Homo sapiens: one gene and its partners. The protein of the gene in region 3 purifies or fractionates together with the protein of the main gene of each other region. This does not show direct contact. Each region holds a gene or a part of one and is shown on either strand. Other genes may lie near its edges.

Region 1 (7,612 bases), on a different chromosome or scaffold from region 3:
TCCTTTGGGGGTAAGTGAGCAGAGGAACTGTCTTTTTGGGCAAGAGCTGCATCTTTTAATGATAGGGACCCCAGTACATTAAGTTCTCCCTTATTTGAGGTATTTAAGCTGAGGAGAGAGGATGGCCTCTCTACTCTTTGCTTTGACTGATAGGAAGATGGTGCCACCAAACACTCTCCAATTCTTGGCTTTTCAATTGTCTTGAAGGCTTTGCGCTCCTTCTCTAAAATATCTGTTTGCTGGCGAATCTGTTCCATCATCTCTTTTTCATTCTGTTGCTGCAACTGTTTTTGCCTTTCTTCCTTCTCAGTGTTTAGCTTTTCTAACTTCTTAAGCACAGGATTAGAAGACTCTGTATTCAAAGAAGGAACAATCTGATCTTTTCCTGAGCAGTGATACCTTCTAGTTTCCCTGTTGATATCCAAAGTAAGAGCTTCCCCCGCTGTGTCTTCATTTTCCAATAGTTTGTTTCTTTGGATACTTGTGTCTAGTTGGGAATTTGTTTTCAGTGGGTCTTGTTGGGGGATATAAAAAAAAGTAGGTAGACTATTTGAAATGAAGGAGTCTTTCAGCTGTGGTTTACAGGTAATAGACTCAGAACTGCAGACCACCATTTCCTTCATAGTTCCATCCTTCAAATGCTCTGCACTGCTAGTCTCATTTGAGGCACTGAGGGCATTGTCCCGTGAATCAAATTTTGGACTGCTGGATATCTTAGGTGATGGAAACTGCAAGTCTCCTTCATCTGAAATGACAGACTCTAGTTTGCTCTTTTGGCTTTCCTCATAGCTCAGAAGTTCCAAGCTTCCTTGAGAGCTCTCACTATCAGGTGTACCCCGTGGAGACTGAAGGCCTTCAGGCACCAATTCTGTAGACCATCTGCGATCCTCTGAAGGAGAAATACCACCAAGAGAACGAACTTTCAGCAATTCTAAGCTAAATATAGCTTGCTCTAGTTCTCTCATTCTCCTACTTTCTCTCTTAGCCCGGCCTACTTTTTTCTGATGGAGATCCTCCAAGGATCTGGGTCTCTCTCTTACAAGCACATCTTCCTGCAAGTCCACACCACTCTGGCTTTGGGCTCTCTCCTGCTGCTTGTTTGGTGACTCCTTCAAGCAGTCCACTGAACTTTCACGGCTAATTCGATTACTCTCTATTACAGATTTACATTCCTCTATGGCTTTTATTCTGTTGTCAAAAGAACAATCCTCCCATCCTGAAGGGTCTGAACCCTGAATTTCCAGAGATCCATATCCCTTAATATTCACCAATCCAACTTCTGGCTTTGTTTCTCTTAGCCTTTGTTCTTTTAAAGCTTTAAATCTATATAAAAACAGACAAAATGGGTTATAGAAATATCTTAGTTACCACTGAAAATAACATATTTCCTGAGAATTTAAGAAAAAATGCAGAGTTGTAAAATCTTTTTATAATACCTAAGTTCTTCTTAAACTAACTTGAATGCACATTTCATAATTTTCCTATTTCCATGAGTCAGATGATATTTCATTAAGTGTATTACTTCTACCTAGGCATTTCAGTCAAAATGTAAACTAATTCAGAAGTAAAGCTCTCATTTTAATAATGCCTTTATTTTAAAGTAAACCTCAAATTAAAGTGAAATTTTAAGTGTGAAATTAAAGTGAAATTTTAATTTAAGTGTGAAATTAAAGTTTCTGAAAGTAACAACAGTTGAATATTGCCAATTTTATAAGATTCAGCCTAATGTAGAAGTTAATTCTTAGCAGTTATGATCACAGACCATGTAGATTTTCAATCCAATTTAATTCAATAAAACCTTATTTAACTTCCATTATAGACAATACAATGTGGGTTAAAATCGGTATCACAGTATAGTGGAAAAGACAAATTGTATACAACCAATTCTAATACAAATTAGACAAGTGTTAATGCAGAGGTATAAACAAAGTACTTGGGAAGAAGAAAAAAAGCAATTATTATAGTAATAGAGATTACCTTTGTCTTGCTCTGAATCCTCTACATGTTGATTGCAAAAGGATAATTTTTTTCCTTTGTTCTTGGTACCTTTTACTTTCCCTGTAGGCTTTCCATCTTGCTTGTATGCAAATAGCAGCCATGTGCCTGCGCCTATAGTAATCTCTCCATTTCTGCTGGATAACGATGGCTGCAGCCCGTAACTCCAAGTACCGCTGCCTCTCTAAGTGAGCACGCCAGGAAGCTTGGAGAAGAGCAGCTGCACTAGCCATAACAAAAGCATCCTTCTGCACAGCTGCATCTCTGACTTGCTTCTGATTTAGGTAATTCCTCCAGAATCTCTATGGGGAAGACAAAATAACAGAAACTGGTTGTCATATCTTACACTGCATTTTCACAGGAAAAAAAGAGAATAAATTTCTTATGTCATAATTACAGGTTAAGTGGCTATGCAGCTAAATTCTTGGTGATTAAAAATAAGTTTTCTGGCCAGGTGCGGTGGCTCATGCCTGTAATCCCAGCACTTTTGGAGGCTAAGGCAGGCAGATCATGAGGTCAGGAGATAGAGACCAACCTGGCTAACATGGTGAAACCCCGTCTCTACTAAAAATACAAAAAAAATTAGCTGGGCGTGGTGGTGGGTGCCTATAGTCCCAGCTACTCAGGAGGCTGAGGCAGGAGAATGGCGTGAACCTGGGAGCTGGAGCTTGCAGTGAGCAGAATTCACGCCACTGCACTCCAGCCTGGGTGACAGAGTGAGACTCTGTCTCAAAAAAATAAAAATAAAAAAACTAGTTTTCTACAAAAGCAGAAAGTGTACCTGAAAAAGATAAATAGAAAAAAGTTTTCTCTTCCAGATATGTTTGGCTAAAACAGCTATTTTAAATAATATAACCTTGAAGAAGTTAATTACAGAACCTAATTTAAAATTTTTGGATGATTTCATGTCCTTCAAATTATTAGTAACTTTAACATATTATATTCTTTTGTTACAATTTTCCTAAATAACACTAATGGGTTTAAGGTAATCCTGACACACATTCCAAAGATGAAGATACTAAAGATTTTCTTGCACAAATGGAAAAGATCTTATGGAAATGATATAAATCAATGAGGGAGTTAATAAAACAAATAAAATGTAAAATAAGGTACCTATCATCCAAAATGAGTGTCTAAAACCAACGGTATATATACAACTCTCAAACATCACTCCAAAAACTATTAAATAAAAACAACTATGTCAACAAATATTAGGTAACTCCTTAGCCCCTACACAGATCTCACAAGACATTATAACTACAAATTCAATTTAATTTAAATTCAATGGAATCAATATTTATTAATAGTCTATTATATGCCAGATAATCTGTTGGGTGTTATGAGCACTTCAAAATTGGGTACGACATATTCTCATTTCTGAAGTTCACATTATTACTGAAAATGTTTTACAGTAAAAAGGTTCTGGTTACTAAACAAAGGCCAAATAAACTAGTCAATCTCATGCAAAGAATCCTTTGCTTCTCACCTGGATAATAACAGATGCTTGTCTCAGATGGAGGAAATGCTGCCTACACAGCAAGACCCTGAACCATCGCTGCAACAATATGATTCTGCGGAGCACCTCTTGGTGAAGCAGATCTTGTAAGTGCTGTCGTTCCTGCTCCTTTAGAAAGACCTACCAAAAGGAAGAAAGATGAGGAATGCAGCTTAAGAAGAAATGAGAAATTTATTTCATGAATCATCCTTTCTGTGATAAGCTTTTAGAGAAGAACAAACACAGTGGCAGGCATGTAAATGAAGTACTGATAAATATTCCTACAGATTTATCCAAAGTAGTCATTCTCAAATTGAAATGGAGATAGTAGAATACGGAAGGTGAGCTGGGTGTGGTGCTACATGCCTATACTCCTAACTACTGAGAAGGCTGAAACAGGAAGTTTGCTGAAGCCCAGGAGTTCCAGTTCTACGGCAAAATAGAGAGACCTGGTCTCCAAAAAAAAAAAAGACAAAAAAAGGAAGGTAAGGAAGGGAGGAAGGGAGGGAAAAATGACAAGGTGAGCAAGAATATCAAAATTCCAGTGCCAGAGATTATGATACATTAGTCCATTGGGGAAACCACTGCTATGAGTAAATGTATTACTGGTAATAAGTCATATTTTTCAAGCGTGTTGGGATGGGGAAAAAAGTTGAAAACCATAGATCTTGAAGCTTGAATCATATAATGAATAAACCAATGATAACAGTCTTTTTGAAATCCAGCGTGCATTAAAAGCTTCTCACTGTCCAAAGTTATTAATAAGTTTATTTTATTTACTCCTTCATTCCACTAATGTTTAGGGTTTGTGAGGCTGCAAAGGTGAAGGAGACATATCCCTTTAGAAACAGGAATTATACCTCTCATTTGAGAGCAGGTAGATATTATATACCCGAAGAGGAAGATGGTAAACTAATAAGGGCCAGAGACAAAAGATCCCACCTGAGTAACACAGAGAGTTGAAAATAATAATAAAGGCATGCACAGGAGACAACGGGACAATTAATCTCCATAAAAAAGATATTAAGTAATGTGAAGCCACAATATGAAGGTTCTCAAAAAAGAGAAAGATGTTTGGATTTAATGAGGAGGTTATCAGGAGGTTATTATCAAGCAGGAGGCAGACATAAAGAACTAAGTATATTAAGATAATAATTTTAATATTATGAGTAGAATAAATTAAATGGAATGACAAATATACTAGAATCAGATAAGTAAGCTGTTCACTGTATAAGCAATGTAGATGAGAAGAGATAAGGAATAAAAATAAAATGGAAGCAGTAGTAATGGAGAAACAGAAAGCGATGTAAGAATCTCTTTGTAAAAGGAAAAAAAATCCCTAAAACTTTGTGAAAGGATTAAAGTGAACGGTATGCCAAAGACAATTATGGTTTCTAGACTGAGAAACTGGAAAAAGGGTGACAGAGAAAGAAAGTATTTGATAAATTTAAGAACAGATGAATCTGGATATGGTCACCTTGGGCAAGCTGGCTTGGAGATTACAGTAGAGTATCTATGGAGAGATGATTTTTAGGCAGTTAAAATTATAGTCAGAACTAGAGCACTGGCCAGAGCTCTGTGATTAATATTGACTACATAATTAAATAAAAACCTGGGCCTAACCAATTGTCTTCTGATATCTGATTCACTATCTTTTTAATAAACAATCTCATAGGCAAAAATTATTATTTTTTAAATAAATGCACTCAATTTTGACCAGAGCTATACAGATTATATTTACCATGGTTTTTCCAACTTGATAATTATCTGGATTAAGATTTATTTTCCTGAAGAAATCCTGAATGTTAAATTTGGATGGAATAATATTTCGGGGAAGAAGTACATGGAAGTGGCTCACAAAATCCTGAAAAATAATTTAAAAATATTGTAAAATCAGAAAACAGTGTATGTAAACAAGACCTTAAACTAATTATCATTCTATTAATCTTTTCTCTTTCTTTTAAACAGGGTGAAACCAAGACGTGCATGTTAATTTAAGATATGATAAAAGGTTAATTCGGAAAACATAGGAGGTGGAGAAAGATATTGGGTTCTACATATCATGACATCAAAAGGGAATGAGAGAAAAAAAAGGCAGAGGCTAATTATCCCTTTTGAGAAAGCTTTATAAAAGACCAAAGAAAAGGGTATTTAACAAGACCCTAAAATTTCTATCAGGAAAAAAAAAGCAAACGTGGCAGGATGGGGACAGGGTATCACTGAGAATGAGGCTTTCCGTCCCAGTAACAGCAAAGACTTGCTCAGTTGCTGAACAGCTTCAATATAGTTTCCATACCCATAGCAGCAATTGCTGATACGAGTAGCTGTGAGCCTTGCTGGCAGCTTACTATGAAAGAAAATCCTGCTGAGAAAACTTTAGGGAAAACCAAATAGAATCTTTTCACTAGATAATTCTCATTGAACTATTTCAGTTACTGGAGAGGTCAGTGCAAAGAATTGTTATATCAGGAGTAAATTTAGTATTAGCAAACATTCCGAGCAAATGAGAATAGCCAAGTACTGGATTCTATTACAATAAGCTTAATGAGATTGCTGCCATTCAATCAAAGTAAATACTGTCTATCCCTTTTCAATTCCGTATACAAAACGTGAAATGGAAAGGAAGAATTAAGGAAAATAAGTAAGCCCCAAAGAAATAATAAGCAAGATATGTGGGAATCATTTACTTGATGTGTCTAAATATGTAAATATCACTATAAAAACAGAACCTGGAAAGAATATTTGGAGCTGTATCCTGATTGGCGAATTCGAACTGTTTCCAGCATCCCGGTGTATCGAAGCTGTCTAAGTACCAAGACATCACTGAACCTTAAGGGCAGCTAAAGCAAATGGAAAAAAGATTAACCCAGAACAGTAGATCTCCAAATTAATTATCTGTTTATAAGCATGACTAACTGTTGAGTATCTAGAGATTGACTGGAGGTTGTCTGGTTAACATATACAGTAACTAAGTATATTAAGGCAAGCTCACCTCTCAGCTGGTAGCTTCAGAAAAGTTCTGACTGCCCAACCCTAGGGAAAAGAGAGAAACCAAGCTTCCAGGCTTCTCTGGTTGTGAAGAGAGAGGACCTTAAAGGCTCAAAAAGAATGTAGTCACCCACAGAGGCCACATAGTCCAATCACTACAAAATCTGTAACAAGATAACCTACAACTGGGTGTAGTGGCTCACGCCTATAATCCTAGCACTTTGGGAGGCCAAGGTGGGCTGATCACCTGAGGTCAGGAGTTCAAGACCAGCCTGGCCAACATGGCAAATCCTTGTCTCTACTAAAAATACAAAAATTAGCCGGGCGTGGTGGTGCACACCTGTAGTCCCAGCTACTCAGGAGGCTGAGGCAGGAGAACTGCTTGAAACCAGGAGGCGGAGATTACAGTGAGCTGAGATCATGCCACTGCACTCCAGCCTAGGTGACACAGTGAGACTCTGCCTCAAAACAAAAACAAAAACAAAAAAGAAAATTCTTTTCTGACAGGACTTCAAGAGGTATTTGCTTCTCAAATTCTGGGTGATGCTAAATCAAATCCAAATAAACACCTTACAGGCAGGGAAGTGTGGAAAAATCCATTTAAAGTGTTTATAACATACTATTTTCCTTATAAATATTATAGTTAGTGCTTCCCCTCCACTTATTCTGCTTAAAAGTATTTAAAGCTCAGTTTGAAGTAAGCTGAGATATGTGCTCTCATTTATAGGACATTTTTACCTTTTCAGCATTAGAGCGAATGCATTTTACAAAATATGGTTCTGCTTGACCAAGTGTTTCCATTAGCTTGCTTAATGATGCCTGCAACAGAAAGCAATATAATTATCATACTCTTCCATTCCAAACTATTAACAAATAATTTATAACTATAATCAACATGCTGGCAAAACATTCAAAAAGTAGAGGTACACATAGAAAGAGGTTTTTGAAAAGCACATTGTGTATATTCTCATACTGGTTAAATTATGGATAATTAAGGATAAAGATGGTAGTTTAATATTAAAGCAGATAGCCTGGAAATAGTAAATATTGCAGATGTTTTCAGAACAATCAAATATAGAATTTTTTTCACTTTTCTTCACATTTCATCAAACAATTTTATTCAAACTCATGTAT
Region 2 (7,800 bases), on a different chromosome or scaffold from region 3:
TTAATGTATCTCTTCAAAAATAGACTTTATAGAATTATTGATTGCCAGGTTTTTTTTTTCATGACTCCTAAGCATCCTTATTTCCTCTCATGCTTAACTGATGTAATTTTATTTGTTCCTGCTTAAATAATCATCACTGATCAGGCAGGAATTAAGCACACAGCAATCCATTCATTCAGTCATTTTTCCAGAAGCATCTCTTGCATGCTTGCTATGTTAGAGACTTTTTGATAGATGCACCAACTTCTTAGAGTTGTTTCTGATTCATTACTTAGGAACATTTCAAGAGGGCAGTTGGAAGTCTCTGTACCTTCAAAGGAATTACTAACACCCTTATTTTCTCTTCATTCCAAAACCTAAGACCTTTATTCTCTAAGACATCCTGTTCTCATTTTTTTTTTCAATCTGTAGCAGGTCTTCCCTTGCTTATGTCAGTGGACTGTTTAAATGAAGAGTGGACTGTTTGAGAAGTGGACTGTTTAAATCAGTATAGACACAGGCTGTCAGTGTTTCTTTATGTTTCCTTTAAAGACATTTTCGTAATGATTAATATAAATGAGTTAATGGAAACAAAAATGTAAACAGTAGTTGATAAAAGAATAGTATCAATTAAAAACATACTGTGAAGTATTCAACTTCACCAGTGATTTAAAATAGAAATGAAAGCAAAATAATATTTTCTACAGCGGAGCAAATAAAATGAAAGATAATACATAATGTTGGTGAGGACATTTTTAAAGGGACACCCATATATTGCACTGGTATGTAGGTGAGTACACTCTCTTTGGAGAGAAATTTGTAAATAGTAATCAAATATGGCAATATTGACATGCATTGTAGCAGCAATGAAAATGGAATATTTTGTAATCATTTAAAGTAATGTTTTAAAAGAACTTTGTAATAACATCAAAATACATTTAACATAATATTGCCTCCAAAAAGCATTATGCAAGTCAATGGCAATTTTCAAAACTATGTTCTGAGCATTGACATAAATGCTAGAAGATAATACTTTAGTGTTAACAGAGATTATGTTTGTGTGGTGGGTTATTATCTATTATTCTGTATTTCCACATTTCTTTAAATATCAAATGAAAGTGAATACAACCTAGTACTTGACATTTTAACATTTTCAATACCAGATATGTCAATAAGGAATTCATAAAATAAAGTGCCCTGAGGGATTTCACAGGCTAAATGCTTCTATTTTTTAAAATGTATTAATAGAAAAGAAGACTAAATCTAAAAAAAAAAATTCATTTTATCAGAGAGTGACTCATAAGTTTAGAAAACCTTTGATGACCTGGCTCACAAAGAATGTACTTCCAAGTACACAGGGTCCCCAGCCTGATGTGTGTGCCTGCATTCATGCCTGTCACTCTGCTCAGCTGCGTGCAGACAGCTTATATGAAGGAGGACTGTGTACATGTGGTCAGAGAAGAAAAAAATGCTTATTTTTTAAAATGTTTTGAAAAATAATCTGTCCTAAAAGTGTAACATTTCCACTAAATTTTTTCATGTCTGACTTTAACATTCCCTACCAACCAACTCTTATAGCCTCAACTCCTTTGATCTATCCTAATGTAAACTCCCTCACTAATGTGTAATATATTTTTTTCCAGTTTGGTTATAGATTTCAGTCTAGCCTGAACACTCAAGTATGAAACTAGCCACTATTTTATTTATTGGCTGTTCCAACCTCCATTGTGGAATTATAATTGATGGATTTTCCAAGTCTCTAATTCAGAATATTTAATCAAATTTTCCAAAATTTCTGCCTTCTCCTCCTTCATTCTGATGACTAAAGACATGGACCATAAAATATATATACATATATACATACATATGTATATGTATGTATATACACATATATATATGTATGTATATATACATACATATATATATGTATATATACACACACATATACATATGTATGTATATATACACACACACATATATATATGTATGTATATATATACACACACATATATATATGTATGTATATATATACACACACATATATATATGTATGTATATATATACACACACACACCGTAGTTTGCAAGTCTGCATCTGGGACCCTTTACTGATAAAAATGAAAGCCCATTAAAACTCTCATGCCCACATTTCTCTCTAGACTTTAGAGTAGGAGAATTCTATCCTAGAATTGTTGATTGTTGACATTTCTATGGAAAAACATGTTTAATTCATCATGCTTTGTAGTCAACTGCTATAAATGGTGATGAAGTCTTTTCCTTGGTCAAGCTCTGGACTCCTCAGTACTTCCACTGTCATATTTGATTAAAACATAAGTGATGAAGGGAGGAAATATATTATAGTATTCATTGCATGGGTACCTTAGGGTAATGGGACTATGACTGATTTAAATTTATTTTGCATCCTAAAAAGTTTCCATTAGTGGGTGCAGCACACCAGCATGGCACATGTATACATATGTAACTAACCTGCACAATGTGCACATGTACCCTAAAACTTAAAGTATAATAATAAAAGAAAAAAAAACTTAAAAAGAAAAGTTTCCATAATGAGGATTGAGTTTATATCGTTTTCTTAATTAAGGAAAGACAACCCTCACTACACACACACACACACACACACACACACACATAAAAAGACAAGAGGTGAGATCAAGGCGTAAACTAGTATTGGACTAAGCCAGTAAGTACTGCTTCTCAGTCCTCAGTTCTCTAGGTTGGGAGTTTTCCTTTTGCTATTTTCATTCTCCTCCAATTCATTTTTCAATGATCTTCAACACAAATTTCGCCTTTATTTCTTGTTCAAAATACTTCCATGACTATTATGAATACTATTTATGGATGAAGGCTGAACATTTTAAGGCATACTAAGTCTCCCATGATATGGTACCTTTTCATTTTCCCATTCTATACCCTGCATCTAGGCTTTTAAAAAATATACCACATGACTTCATGCCTCTAGGCTATTGCTCATGCCACGGCATCCCTTCTGGGTTTTTTCCCCTCTTTATCTACTTGGTGAATTTGCATCCTTCAGTATAACACAGCTCAACATAATTCTATGCTTAAACTTTACTGAAAATGCACAAGGAACTTGATCTTTCTTTCTTATTTTCCCCATTTTATTTATTTTCCCATTGCATTTGGGCAACTTTCATGGCACCAGTTATTTTATTAATTATTTGTATAAACTAGTATGAGCCTATTTTGTTTAGCTTTCTATCACCAGGAGCCATGAAGCACTTTGAAATCAAATACTGTTTGTACTTGAATATATTAAGTAAGCGTGAGGACTTAAATTAAACTTTGTTCCTCTTTAAAAAAATCCTTACCCCAACTCTAGCACTGATTCTATGTTATTGAAGCTTACAATCTTTATGTCATTTTCTGTCATCTTTTCTGTTATGAGAAGACCTAGGTATGAGTCTATTGCCTTTATTCCTTGGCCTTCTTTGCAAGGGTATCAAAGAACACTGCTGCAGTACTTCCTGTTCTACATAGTCATGTGACTTAAGCAAGAGCATCTGCCAGCCAGTGAGGCCCCTTGAGAGCCTGGTTAAACATGGGACTGAAGGGTTAAGTGAATCACTTTTTATTCATGTTGAAATATGAATGCTGAAGTTTGGAAAATTTTATATATAACATTTTAATAACTAAAAAAACTTGACTTAGGAATAGTGCTTATATTAAAATCAGTGTTTGTCATTGTTTCATGAAGTTTTTACAAATCTAAGAGGCTTAAGAGGGATATAATAGTCCACTTTGCTTTAGTTGTGTTTTACTTGATATTACTGATTGCTTTAACTTTGAAACACAGAACAATGCTATAGTAAGAATGTAGTATACTACTCTATTAACCCAAAACATAATATAGATAGGTTTATTGTATATTTGTGGAGAAAAGTTTATTCTAACGTTCTTTTTACAAATAGTAAAAATGCTATTTGTAGGATGCTCTGATTTTTACTTTTTGTAAAAAGAACATTGTCTTTTTACCCCAACAGAAAATGGCAAGCGTTCAGCTTTCTTTGGGAATCCAAAATCTCTTATGAGGCATATTAGGTATCACATGTGACATAAGCAAAAGCCTGTGATCCTTAGCATGTTGGAAAGTTGCTACTCTTTAGGATAAGGTTGTCCATGATGTCTAGGTCATTCCATTCAGCTGCATAAACAATTCCTTTGATGGATGGCTGGTTTTCTACAACCCCAGCATTATTTTAGCAGGAGAAGGTAGTATTTGATGTGTTGCAATTTGTGTTACATGCCCATGGAACATCTCTGGACATTACCTCAGGAGGAGGGGTTAAGAGAAGGAGGAGCTGTGGCTGAAGACATTTAATGGCAGAATGAATGGAAATTCAAAGATCGCTGTGCAGTCAGCCTTAAACACTGACTGCACCCCTCCCAGATTTCTTTTACATTAACTAAAAAGTCTTATCACACAATCTCATAAAATTTATGTAATTTCATTTAATTTTAGCCACAAATCATCAAAATGACGAGGATTTTGACAGCTTTCAAAGTGGTGAGGACACTGAAGACTGGTTTTGGCTTTACCAATGTGACTGCACACCAAAAATGGAAATTTTCAAGACCTGGCATCAGGCTCCTTTCTGTCAAGGTAATACCCATATTGATTGTTTCTGATAAAATACTATGGGGTATAGTTTAGCAGTGAAGCAAAGGTGTCCCTTACAAGGCAAATACAGTTTTGAATGTAGCTCTGAAGTACTAATGTATTAATGTTTCCTTTACTGTGGAACCTACTGACTTAGCAAATGCTAATTTTTATCTTATCTGAGTAACATGACAGTAATTTTTACCCAACATAAAGAATGATGACAATTCTTGTGAACATGTAAAATGTAAGTACACTGCTTGAAAAAGAAACATCTTTTCTTTCATAGATAGCTTTCTGTGACTAGATACTATTGCTTACAGTTTGGATTTAAAAAATGGAGCTGCTTATATGTGTGTGAGCCACATTATGGTACACAGTGTGTTAAGGTCTGTTCTATAAATAGGGCTTACTGAAAAGTTCTCTTTTGAAATATCATTTAAACATTTTAAAAACATAATTAGAAAATATGTGTTTTTGAGATTTGCAGGTCATCATGTAGACACTGCTTTAGCTTTTTCCTTTTCCTTCTGGCTGTTTTTTTGGGCAGGCTAAACTTATTATTTTCATTTTGTAGAGTAATACATAGAGGCAGATAGCAGCTGATAATTCTGTCCCTCCACAGGTATCTATAATTGAGAGGGCAAGCCCAGGAAAGAAACATTAATTGCCCTTCTTCCTGCCCCCCAGCATTGAATTATGAAATTCCTGTAGGAACCTCTGCTCCTTCCTGCAACTTTATGAAGACGTTCATTATCAGAGAAGCCTGAAGTTACTCCATAGGAACTTTGCCAATGAAAATAATCTTTAGTGACTATAAGTTTAAGTAATTATATTAGCTTTAGATATATTGCTTCTTTAGCAGCAAAAGCTGTAAAATTTGAAATAGAAAAAACAAAAGAAAACCTCTGTCTGTTGATGTGAAAATGGGAACTCACAGTTTGGAGTGTTCTGCTTATACTTTGCATGCTCATTGAGTTGACTAAGCTTCTATTGTTTCAGTTGCTCAAGTCAGGATTCAGTGGGGTTTTGGTCCTGACACCTGCAAGGCCAAGGAATATTCATAGATTCCTGTGGCTGCCAGGGATAGGGATGGGAAAGGAATGGGAGTAAAAGAAAAGGAAGAGAGATGGAGACAGGGGGAGGGGAAGGGGAGAAGTGTGAGGGATGGGAGGGAGAGAGAGAGAGAAAGAGAGAGAAACTAGCTCAAGATCCCAGGAGAAAAGAGGAAATACATATAGTAGCCTTAGTGGTGTGTTAACAACTTCAGCCTTTAACATTGAGAAGATTCTAACAAGAGTATAGGAAATTACCATTTTAAATTAAGAAAACCAGAAAGGAAAATGTCTTTTATGTTGTTACATATTCCAATGTATCCAATTTTACTCTTTTTAAATGGACATCATGTTTTAAAGATAGTTAAAATCATTAGGATGTAGTTACATAATGGCCATAAAGGGCACTGGGAGCAGTCACTAAAGGTTAGTGGCATTATGTCTAGTTATATATATTTTCTTGAATTTAGCTTAATTATAGCAAAAGAATGGGAAAGGAGAATATTCTAAACTAACATCAAAGACATTGTAACTAGATGTAAACTATGAGAATTTATTGTTAGTAATACCTCAAGGTACTCATGTATCAGTTCAGAGAAAATCAATAGTAATGAAAGTTATCCCCTATGATTATATGTGCCATCTAATACTTCAAAGTTGGGTGACTTGGAATATCTTCTTCTCACTCTGTGAGAAGGTAGGTATGTAGGTAAGGATAGGTGCATCTTCATCAGACCCCAGAAACCGCGAAATTGAGTACTTACTTAAAATGGCACAGATATGATTGAAATTAGAATCCAATTCTCCAAGATCACAATAAGTGCTCCATACAACCACCACCACAATCACAACCACGACAAAATGGTCTAATTATGTGGATGGATTACTGTGAAAGCAGTTCTAGCTCATGGTGACAGATCTGTTTCAAGGGTCTGTCACAGTGCACAGCTAAGAATGACAAATTTGTAGGAGCACTAAGCCATCATTTCATGGTGTAAAAGCCATTACTCACACTCAATCATTACTGGCCAGAGTTTTGGAGGAATGCCAAGCACAAAAAATAGAAGTTCTTGAACTTCACAATAGTGAATTAAAATTCCATAGAACAGCCCAAGGGGACTTGTGTTATTATTCAGTTATTGTGAAATAGTCCTCTATCTACTTTTCTTCCTGCCTTCACTTTAAAAACTCAACTGTCTTAGAAAAATATATCCAAATTTACTATTTTTAGATGGACATCATATTTTAAAGATAGTTAAAATCATTAGGATGTAGTTACATAATGGTCAGTGAAGGGCACTGAGAACAGTCACTTTAAAGGTTAGTAGCATTATGTCCAGTTATAGATGGTAAATGGATTGGGAAAGACACCCTGTAGTCACATCTATAATCATTGCCCTGTAAATTGGGTTGCTTTTTCGACATATTTAGAGGTTTGCTTTTCCTCTCTCTTTGATGACAGAGACGGTGGGTTTGACGACAGCAATGACGCACTTATAATTTTATGTGGCCCTTCCCTGGGTATTTGTCAGCGGCTAATATTTATAGAGTGCTTTGCCAATCGGCACAGTTGTATTTTACTTACAGGAAAGAGGAAAGAATTTCAAGGTGCTCTATATTTTAAAGAAAGTTGATATCAAGGGTATAAATGATCAACAACCATAAAATACTAAATACTAAAAAGTTTTAGATACCATAATCTTTTTCCATTAGTACTGAAAATGTTCAGCACTCATTATTACATTCAGCAGGCTGTAACAGTGTAATAGTGGGATATACTCTGGATTGGGCACAAAAAGATCTGGAATCTAACCCCTGTTATGCATTTCCTAATGCCCTGTTCTTGGACAAGTCACATATTCTCTGAACCTAAGTTTTGTCATCTGTATAGTGCAAATGATGACTGATTTACTTGACAAATTATGTGATTGTCACACATGAACAATTCTCAAAAATCTTTAAAGTTTTAAATTTAAACCATTAAACTGAACATTTTAAAGCAAAAACTGGATATTTAAAAAAAAATTCCATTCTATACATTTTAGTAGAAGGACTTAGTAGAGGGTTAGATCAAAGAGTCCTTATGTTTTTTATGGACTACAAGTTGTTGCAATGACAAGGTATTTGA
Region 3 (7,612 bases):
TAAATGGTAAACCAGAAGAACTAGTGAAAACTGTGATGCTGCATTTCTTCTGTTAATGAGACAAAGCATACTCTGTAAACACTAAACAGCTTCAGTAACCATTAGGGTTATCTCTGCTTTAGGATCTGCCTTCTGAGGAAGTGGATCAAGAGCTGATTGAAGACAGTCAGTGGGAAGAAATACTGAAGCAACCATGCCCATCGCAGTACAGTGCTATTAAAGAAGAAGATGTATGACCCATATTTATACTCAACTCTCTATTAACCTGGGCTTTTTGCCATAGTAAAGGAAATAATATTTGCATGTAAGATGAAAAATTGGTAGTTATAAAATAGGGGCAACCAGAAACTTGATATCTTTCAGAGCCAACATGGAAGTATCAGGCAACCATATGGATTTAGAGTTCAGTTTCTCATCCTATGGGTTTCCTTTGCACTCTAAAACCGTTATTTAAAATACTTTTAGGGACAGGCATGGTGGCTCACACCTGTAATCCCAGCACTCTGGGAGGCCGAGGTGGTTGGATTGCTTGAGTCTAGGAGTTCGAGACCAGACTCGGCAACATGGTGAAACTCTGTCTCAACAAAAAATACAAAAATTAGCCAGGTATGGTGGTGCACACTTATAGTCTCAGCTACTTGGGAGGTTGAGATGGGAGGATCACCTGAGCCCATGGAGGTTGAGGCTGCAACCAGCACCATCTCTTTTTTTTTTTTCTGAGACGGAGTCTCGCTCTGTCACCAGGCTGGAGTACAGGGCCGCGATCTTGGCTCACCACAACCTCCACCTCCTGGGTTCAGGCGATTCTCCTGCCTCAGCCTCCCAAGTAGCTAGGACTACAGGCGCGCACCACCATGCCCAGCTAATTTTTTTGTATTTTTAGTAGAGATGGGGTTTCACCATGTTGGCCAGAATGGTCTTGATCTCTTGACCTCGTGATCCGCCTACCTCAGCCTCCCAAAGTGCTGGGATTACAGGCTTGAGCCACCTTACCTGGCCCCAGCACCATCTCTTAAAGAGATTATTTTTTCCCCAGTTGAATGGCCCTGGCACACTTGTGAAAAATCAGCAGGCCATAGATGTATAGGTTTCACGCTGGCCATGGTGGCTCACGCCTATAATCCCAGCACTTTGGGAGGCTGAGGCGGGCAGATCACCTGAGGTCGAGAGTTCAAGACCAGCCTGACCAACATGGAGAATCCCCGTCTCTTCTAAAAATACAAAATTAGCTGGGCGTGGTGGCACATGCCTGTAATCCCAGTTACTCAGGAGGCTGAGGCAGGAGAATTGCTTGAACCTGGGAGGCGGAGGTTACAGTGAGCCGAGATTGCGCCATTGCACTCCAGTCTGGGTGACAAGAGCAAAACTTAGTCTCAAAAAGAAGAAAAAAGAAAAGAAATAGATGTATGGGTTTCATTATGGACTCTCAGTTATATTCTATTGGTCTATATGTCTATCCTTATGCCAGTACCACACTTTCTTGCTTTGCATTAAGTTTTGCAATTGGGAAGTGTAAGTTGTCCTACTTTGTTCCTACCTTGTGCAGTTTTACATGTACCTTACAGCCTGGACAGCAGAGTGAGACCCTGTCTCATTAAATAAATAAATAAATACTTTTAGGAAGAAAATCTAATTTGTTATTTAGTAGATATGTAGTAGATTTGCTAGTAAAACATTCATTGGTAATTGGGGATAGAAGGCTATGAAACAGGTTGCTACCTTATATTTTTAGAAGAACATAAATGTCATCCTGCTTGCTTTTTATAGTTGCTTAAGTTAAACCTGTGACTTCAGATAGCCACCATAATGTCTTTAGTTTTCCAATTTTTAATTATTTAAGGCATATTCATTGGAGACTTACTATGAATAAGACACTTTGCTCTGTGGTATGGAGGAAACAAAGAAAATGAGACATGGTGGGGCTGGGCATGGTGGCTCACGCCTGTAATCTCAGCACTTTAGGAGGCCGAGGCAGGCGGATCACGAGGTCAGGAGATCGAGACCAACCTCCGCCTCCCAGGTTCAAGCAATTCTCCTGCCTCAGCCTCCTGAGTAACTGGGATTACAGGCATGTGCCACCACGCCCAGCTAATTTTGTATTTTTAGAAGAGACGGGGATTCTCCATGTTGGTCAGGCTGGTCTTGAACTCTCGACCTCAGGTGATCTGCCCGCCTCAGCCTCCCAAAGTGCTGGGATTATAGGCGTGAGCCACCATGACCAGCGTGAAACCTATACATCTATGGCCTGCTGATTTTTCACAAGTGTGCCAGGGCCATTCAACTGGGGAAAAAATAATCTCTTTAAGAGATGGTGCTGGGGCCAGGTAAGGTGGCTCAAGCCTGTAATCCCAGCACTTTGGGAGGCTGAGGTAGGCGGATCACGAGGTCAAGAGATCAAGACCATTCTGGCCAACATGGTGAAACCCCATCTCTACTAAAAATACAAAAAAATTAGCTGGGCATGGTGGTGCGCGCCTGTAGTCCTAGCTACTTGGGAGGCTGAGGCAGGAGAATCGCCTGAATCCGCTAACACGGTGAAACCCTATCTCTACTAAAAATACAAAAAATTAGCTGGGTGTGGTGGCAGGCGCCTGTAGTCCCAGCTACTTGGGAGGCTGAGGCAGGAGAATGGCATGAACCCGGGAGGCAGAGGTTGCAGTGAGCCGAGATCGCGCCACTGCACTCCAGCCTGGGTGACAGAGTGAGACTCTGTCTCAAAAAAAGCAAAAAAGAAAAGAAAGTGAGACATGGTGTTCTCCATCAGAAACATGCCCTCACTCAGAAATTCACATAATGTTATCATTGTAGTGGTTAAAGGCAGCATATCCTGAATCATATTAAATGTCCTAAACAGAAGGAATTTTCCTTTTAAATCTGCTGCCAGTTTTATTATTCATTTTTCTTTGGATTGTATGGACTGTGTCCTTAAGATAATCAGACTTGTTTTTTTAAAATCAGCACTTATATATAAAAATGAGTAGCAACTGTGCTTGTTCAAAACATTTTTTTGCCACTTTACAAGTTTTTCCTGTACCATGATCTAGAGATCAGTATATTCATTGTGCTTAGTGTTCAAATGACAACAAACTTTTATCAGTTAAGCATTTCATGTTGAAAATCATTTTTTTGTATTTTTTTTTTTTGAGATGGAGTTTTGCTCTTGTCATCCAGGCTGGAGTGCAATGGCACGATCTCTGCTCACTGCTACCTCCGCCTCCTGAGTTCAAGTGATTCTCCTGCCTCAGCCTACTGAGTAGCTGGGATTACAGCCACCCACCACCACGCCCGGCTAATTTTTGTATTTTTAGTAGAGATGGGGTTTCACCACTTTGGCCGGGCTGGTCTCGAACTCCTGACTTCAGGTGATCCACCCGCCTCGGCCTCTCAAAGTGCGGGATTACAGGTGTGAGCCACCGTGCTTGGCCTGAAAATTCTTAAATCAGACTTTTTTCTTATTCAAATGGACTTTTTCCATGATTACAAAAGAATAAGCTTTTTGTACTATCTCAAAACAGATGACATTAATTTAAGCCATCCATAATACAATTTCAAACAGGAAAAAAAGAGTAATTTTAATCTATTTAAATCTATTTTTAGAATTTTGTGTGCTTGATTTAGATATTTTCCTTCTCTCTTTTTAATTTTAGCTCGTGGTCTGGGTTGATCCTCTGGATGGAACCAAGGAATATACCGAAGGTTGATATCTCTTTTGTATTCATATTTGACAGTAGTGGGACAAGGATATGATGTTAGTTGTAAATATTTGATATTTTGTATGTTGTATGGAAAGCTACTATCATGTGTTATGTTTACCCCTAAAGCTATATTTGTGCTCATGGTTATCATACATCGTTGATTGTTAAGACAGGAGAATAAAATTCATCTCCTTCAAATACCACCCCCCACATACTCCACCAGCCCCACACTTCTAATGTCTCCCAGATGAGAATAACATATTAAACCAGTGTTACCAAAATGACTATACTGAACCCAGCTTTATTGGGGTAGAAAAACGATAACGAGTACAACTGTGTAGCTCTTGCTCTGCCACCACCACCATCCCATGCCCTCCCCATTCACTCTCCCCTAATCTGTGAACTGCTTTCACATTTCATAGCCTCACCTTCTAAAGGTGGGTTTTGAAACACAGTACAATATTTCTCCTTATCTAAGATGAGAACAATTAGAGAGCAACAAATTAAAATAAAATTGGCCATATAAATGTAGGAATGAACAAGCTCAGAGCCAGAGTTTTAGGTTTTGTTTTTTCTATTAGACAGTCTTGCTCATTGCCCAGGCTAGAGTGCAGTGGCACCATCTCGGCTCACTGCAACCTCTGCCTCCCAGGTTCAAGCTGTTCTCCTGCCTCACCTCCCAAGTAGCGGGGATTACAGGCACCTGCCACCACGCCCAGCTAATTTTTGTATTTTTAGGAGAGATGGGGTTTCACCATGTTGGTCAGGCTGGTCTTGAACTCCTGACCTCAGGTGATCCACTCACCTGGGCCTCCCAAAGTGCTGGGATTACAGGTGTGAGCCACCGCACCTGGTAGGTTTTAGGTTTTAAGCTTAGAGTTTTATTTTTAAACTTAAGATCTAGGCCAGGCGTGGTGGCTTATGCCTGTAATCCCAGCACTTTGGGAGGCCGAGGTGGGCAGATAATTAGGTCGGAAGTTCAAGACCAGCCTGGCCAACATGGTGAAACACCTTCTCTCCTAAAAATACAAAAATTAGCTGGGCCTGGTGGCACACGTCTGTAATCCCAGCTACTTGTGGGGCTGAGGCAGGAGAATTGCTTGAATCCAGAAGACAGAGGTTGCAGTGAGCTGAGATCATGCCACTGCACTCCAGCCTGGGTGACAGAGCAAGACTCTGTTTCAAAAAAAGAAAATAAGAATAATAATGATGATGATGATGATAAAATTAAATTAAGGTCTACATAAATTTTCTTGTATTGGCTCTCAGGACATGGCTTAAAAAATTTATCATAATTACTAGAAAAAAACTATTTTACTGTTCTTGAATGAGACATCGCTATAATGGGTGAATCACAGTGTGTGTATACATGTGTATGTATGTGTGTGTGCTGAAAACATCTGTAGAACCCATTGTGAAATAAGGAAGCTCTAGACAACTTTAATGTGTATAAAAGCACCTAGAAAGCTTATTTAGGTCTTGTCCCCCACTCTCAGATTTTGATTCACTAGTTCTGGGAAGGAGCCTGAGAAGATCTGTATTATAAAAAGTACATCAGTTAATTCTAATGCTGCTTGATAGTCCTTGGGCCTCCCTTTGAGAAACTCTGTTTTAAAGGCTTGAAATACAAGTCTAGAGTGTAATCCAGGAATATAAAGTGATTCGGCAGGTAAGGATGAGTTGGATGATGGTGGAAGAGGCACAGAGGAATCTGATGATGATGGCTGCAAAATTATGGCTGCTTTATTTAGTTGGTTTACACATTGTACTAATGAGACCATGATAGCCAATTCAATTAAGTGGCCATAGATCCTATGGCTGTTTCTGGCCAGCTTATCATTTATGCCTTTCACTATAAATAGGATTGATCACGGATGAATCATTGCAAATTCCATACCTTAACTGCAAAACTAACTTGGAGCAATTGATGTAGTAATGATGAGTCATAATATGAGCAAGTTATATAACTGATATTTATTTCTTCTTTGCAGGTCTTCTTGACAATGTAACAGTTCTTATTGGAATTGCTTATGAAGGAAAAGCCATAGCAGGAGTTATTAACCAGCCATATTACAACTATGAGGTATTACTATAAATGATACAAAGTAATTTCATTAGATAAATAATTATAGTGTTATCTGATTCTTTATGTTACCTAAGCAAGTGGTTTTTAGCTTGGTTGCATATGCAATCATCTGGGGAACTTTTCATTTTTTAAATTTTATTTATTTATTTATTTATTTTTAACTTTTTTTTTAGCTATGCTATTAACTGATGAGAAACCTTTAAAAATACGGATTCCCAGGCCATACCCCAGACCTACTGAATCAAAATCGCTGGGGGCATTGGTACTGGGTATGTATATATATGCATGTGTATGTACACAGACCCACTAAATGCATTATATATTTTTTAATTTATTCCTTATGATTCAAATATAAATGTTGAGAGAATTACTGATAGGGTTCTTGATTAGCTTGGGCATCAAGACACCTGATTTATGATTGGTTCCTGAAGCACATTCAAGAAATGAACCATTTCAACTAAGAAAAGATGCTAGGCCTGTTGTTTTCCAGGTAACGCTGTGTAGCGCCTAAGTTACAGTCAGTGTTGGTAACAGAACGTACTATGCTCTTGCATTCTTTTTTCTTGTCTCTTCTAATCTGCTTTGATTTTCTATTATACATCAGATAAATTGCCTTCCATAGAAGCAAGGGACTAGTGTAATTTCAAAGCAAGAATTTACCATTAAATTGCATTAAATTGTATAGGAAATTGTTGAGATAAAGTAGTTAAGGTATTTATATTAATGTGACCTTGATAGAACTTTAGAGAAACAAAGTAATCAGAGTGGGCAATACTACTTCTGAATTTCCACTCTGAGTTAAAAGCAAGGTTAAGCTTTATTTCTAATATAAATTTGTTTTTTCCTGCTGTTTGTATGATTATAAATTATATTAAGAATCGTGTTTCTTAGGATTTACCAAAAGAGTTATATGTTATTGAGAAAGTCTCTGGGGTTAAATTGCTTGTGTCTATTAATTCTTTAAATATGATTTTAATGTTGATACTGTTATATACAGACATAAGTTTGTGGTTTTTATGTAAACTTTAAGTTAATACTATTACTTTCAAAAGGGGCATTTAATTCATATAAAGCATTGTAATGCACGGTACCTTTCATCAAGAAAAAATCTAAGTGCTTAGGAGTTAATAATTTTCACCACTTCTTTCTGAGATTAGAAAAATTGTATTCATTTTCCACAGAACAATGAAAAACAGCAGTTAAGGGAACACAGGAATGAAGCAAAGGTGAGAAAAATAGCTAGGGTTTTGGCTCCACTAGTAGGTAGAAAAGAAGCAGGCAACTTGTGGTACCCCAGGTGGTCATTGTACATCCCACATACCAGTTCATTTTCTCCAGTTCTGCTTCTCTTCATTACCTCTCTCTGTACCACTTCCCTTCTGGACACTCTGTTTATCCTTTCTCTTGCTTCTCTTGCTTATGCCTTAAAATTCATTACCACAAATGGAAGTAGAAAAGTTGCTCAGCTGTGTTGGTGGTATTCAGGCTAAAGATTCAATTTTAAATAATAATCATCATCACCATAATAGCTAAAATTTATTAAGAGTTTACTGTATGCTGCCAGGTTCAAGGGTTTCAAATGTATCCTTTCATTGAATACTAACCACAGCCCTTTAAATAAACTATTATCCCCATTTTAAAGAGGAAACTGAGGCAATTAACTTTCCTGTGGTCACCCAGCTGGTAAATGGCAGAACTGAGATTCAAACTCAAATCCAAACCTTGCTACTGTATTACTTTATATTGCCCTCCTGAGCCAGAGAAAAGACTTAGCAATTCAAACTTTATTATTGCTTCCAACATATACTGAAACTAGTAGACACTTAAAGGA

Evidence for each region.
Region 1: the proteins of BPNT1 (region 3) and MYO9A purify together in Homo sapiens (affinity purification with mass spectrometry; 2 studies listed by BioGRID and IntAct, with this or other methods). This does not show direct contact.
Region 2: the proteins of BPNT1 (region 3) and CPS1 purify together in Homo sapiens (affinity purification with mass spectrometry; 2 studies listed by BioGRID and IntAct, with this or other methods). This does not show direct contact.

The regions. Positions count from the first base shown.
Region 1 is NC_000015.10:71,897,710-71,905,321, forward strand, and holds part of MYO9A (unconventional myosin-IXa), read right to left. Parts: intron 7,298-7,612; coding exon 7,217-7,297; intron 6,331-7,216; coding exon 6,220-6,330; intron 5,355-6,219; coding exon 5,232-5,354; intron 3,632-5,231; coding exon 3,482-3,631; intron 2,298-3,481; coding exon 1,978-2,297; intron 1,324-1,977; coding exon 1-1,323. UniProt on the Homo sapiens protein: Myosins are actin-based motor molecules with ATPase activity. Unconventional myosins serve in intracellular movements. Regulates Rho by stimulating it's GTPase activity in neurons.
Region 2 is NC_000002.12:210,552,240-210,560,039, forward strand, and holds the start of CPS1 (carbamoyl-phosphate synthase [ammonia], mitochondrial isoform b precursor), read left to right. Parts: upstream 1-4,359; 5' UTR 4,360-4,479; coding exon of another isoform or gene 4,480-4,494; coding exon 4,495-4,620; intron 4,621-7,800. UniProt on the Homo sapiens protein: Involved in the urea cycle of ureotelic animals where the enzyme plays an important role in removing excess ammonia from the cell.
Region 3 is NC_000001.11:220,065,468-220,073,079, reverse strand, and holds part of BPNT1 (3'(2'),5'-bisphosphate nucleotidase 1), read left to right. Parts: intron 1-122; coding exon 123-230; intron 231-3,647; coding exon 3,648-3,696; intron 3,697-5,686; coding exon 5,687-5,778; intron 5,779-6,962; coding exon of another isoform or gene 6,963-7,007; intron 7,008-7,612. UniProt on the Homo sapiens protein: Phosphatase that converts 3'(2')-phosphoadenosine 5'-phosphate (PAP) to AMP and inositol 1,4-bisphosphate (Ins(1,4)P2) to inositol 4-phosphate. Is also able to hydrolyze adenosine 3'-phosphate 5'-phosphosulfate (PAPS) to adenosine 5'-phosphosulfate (APS).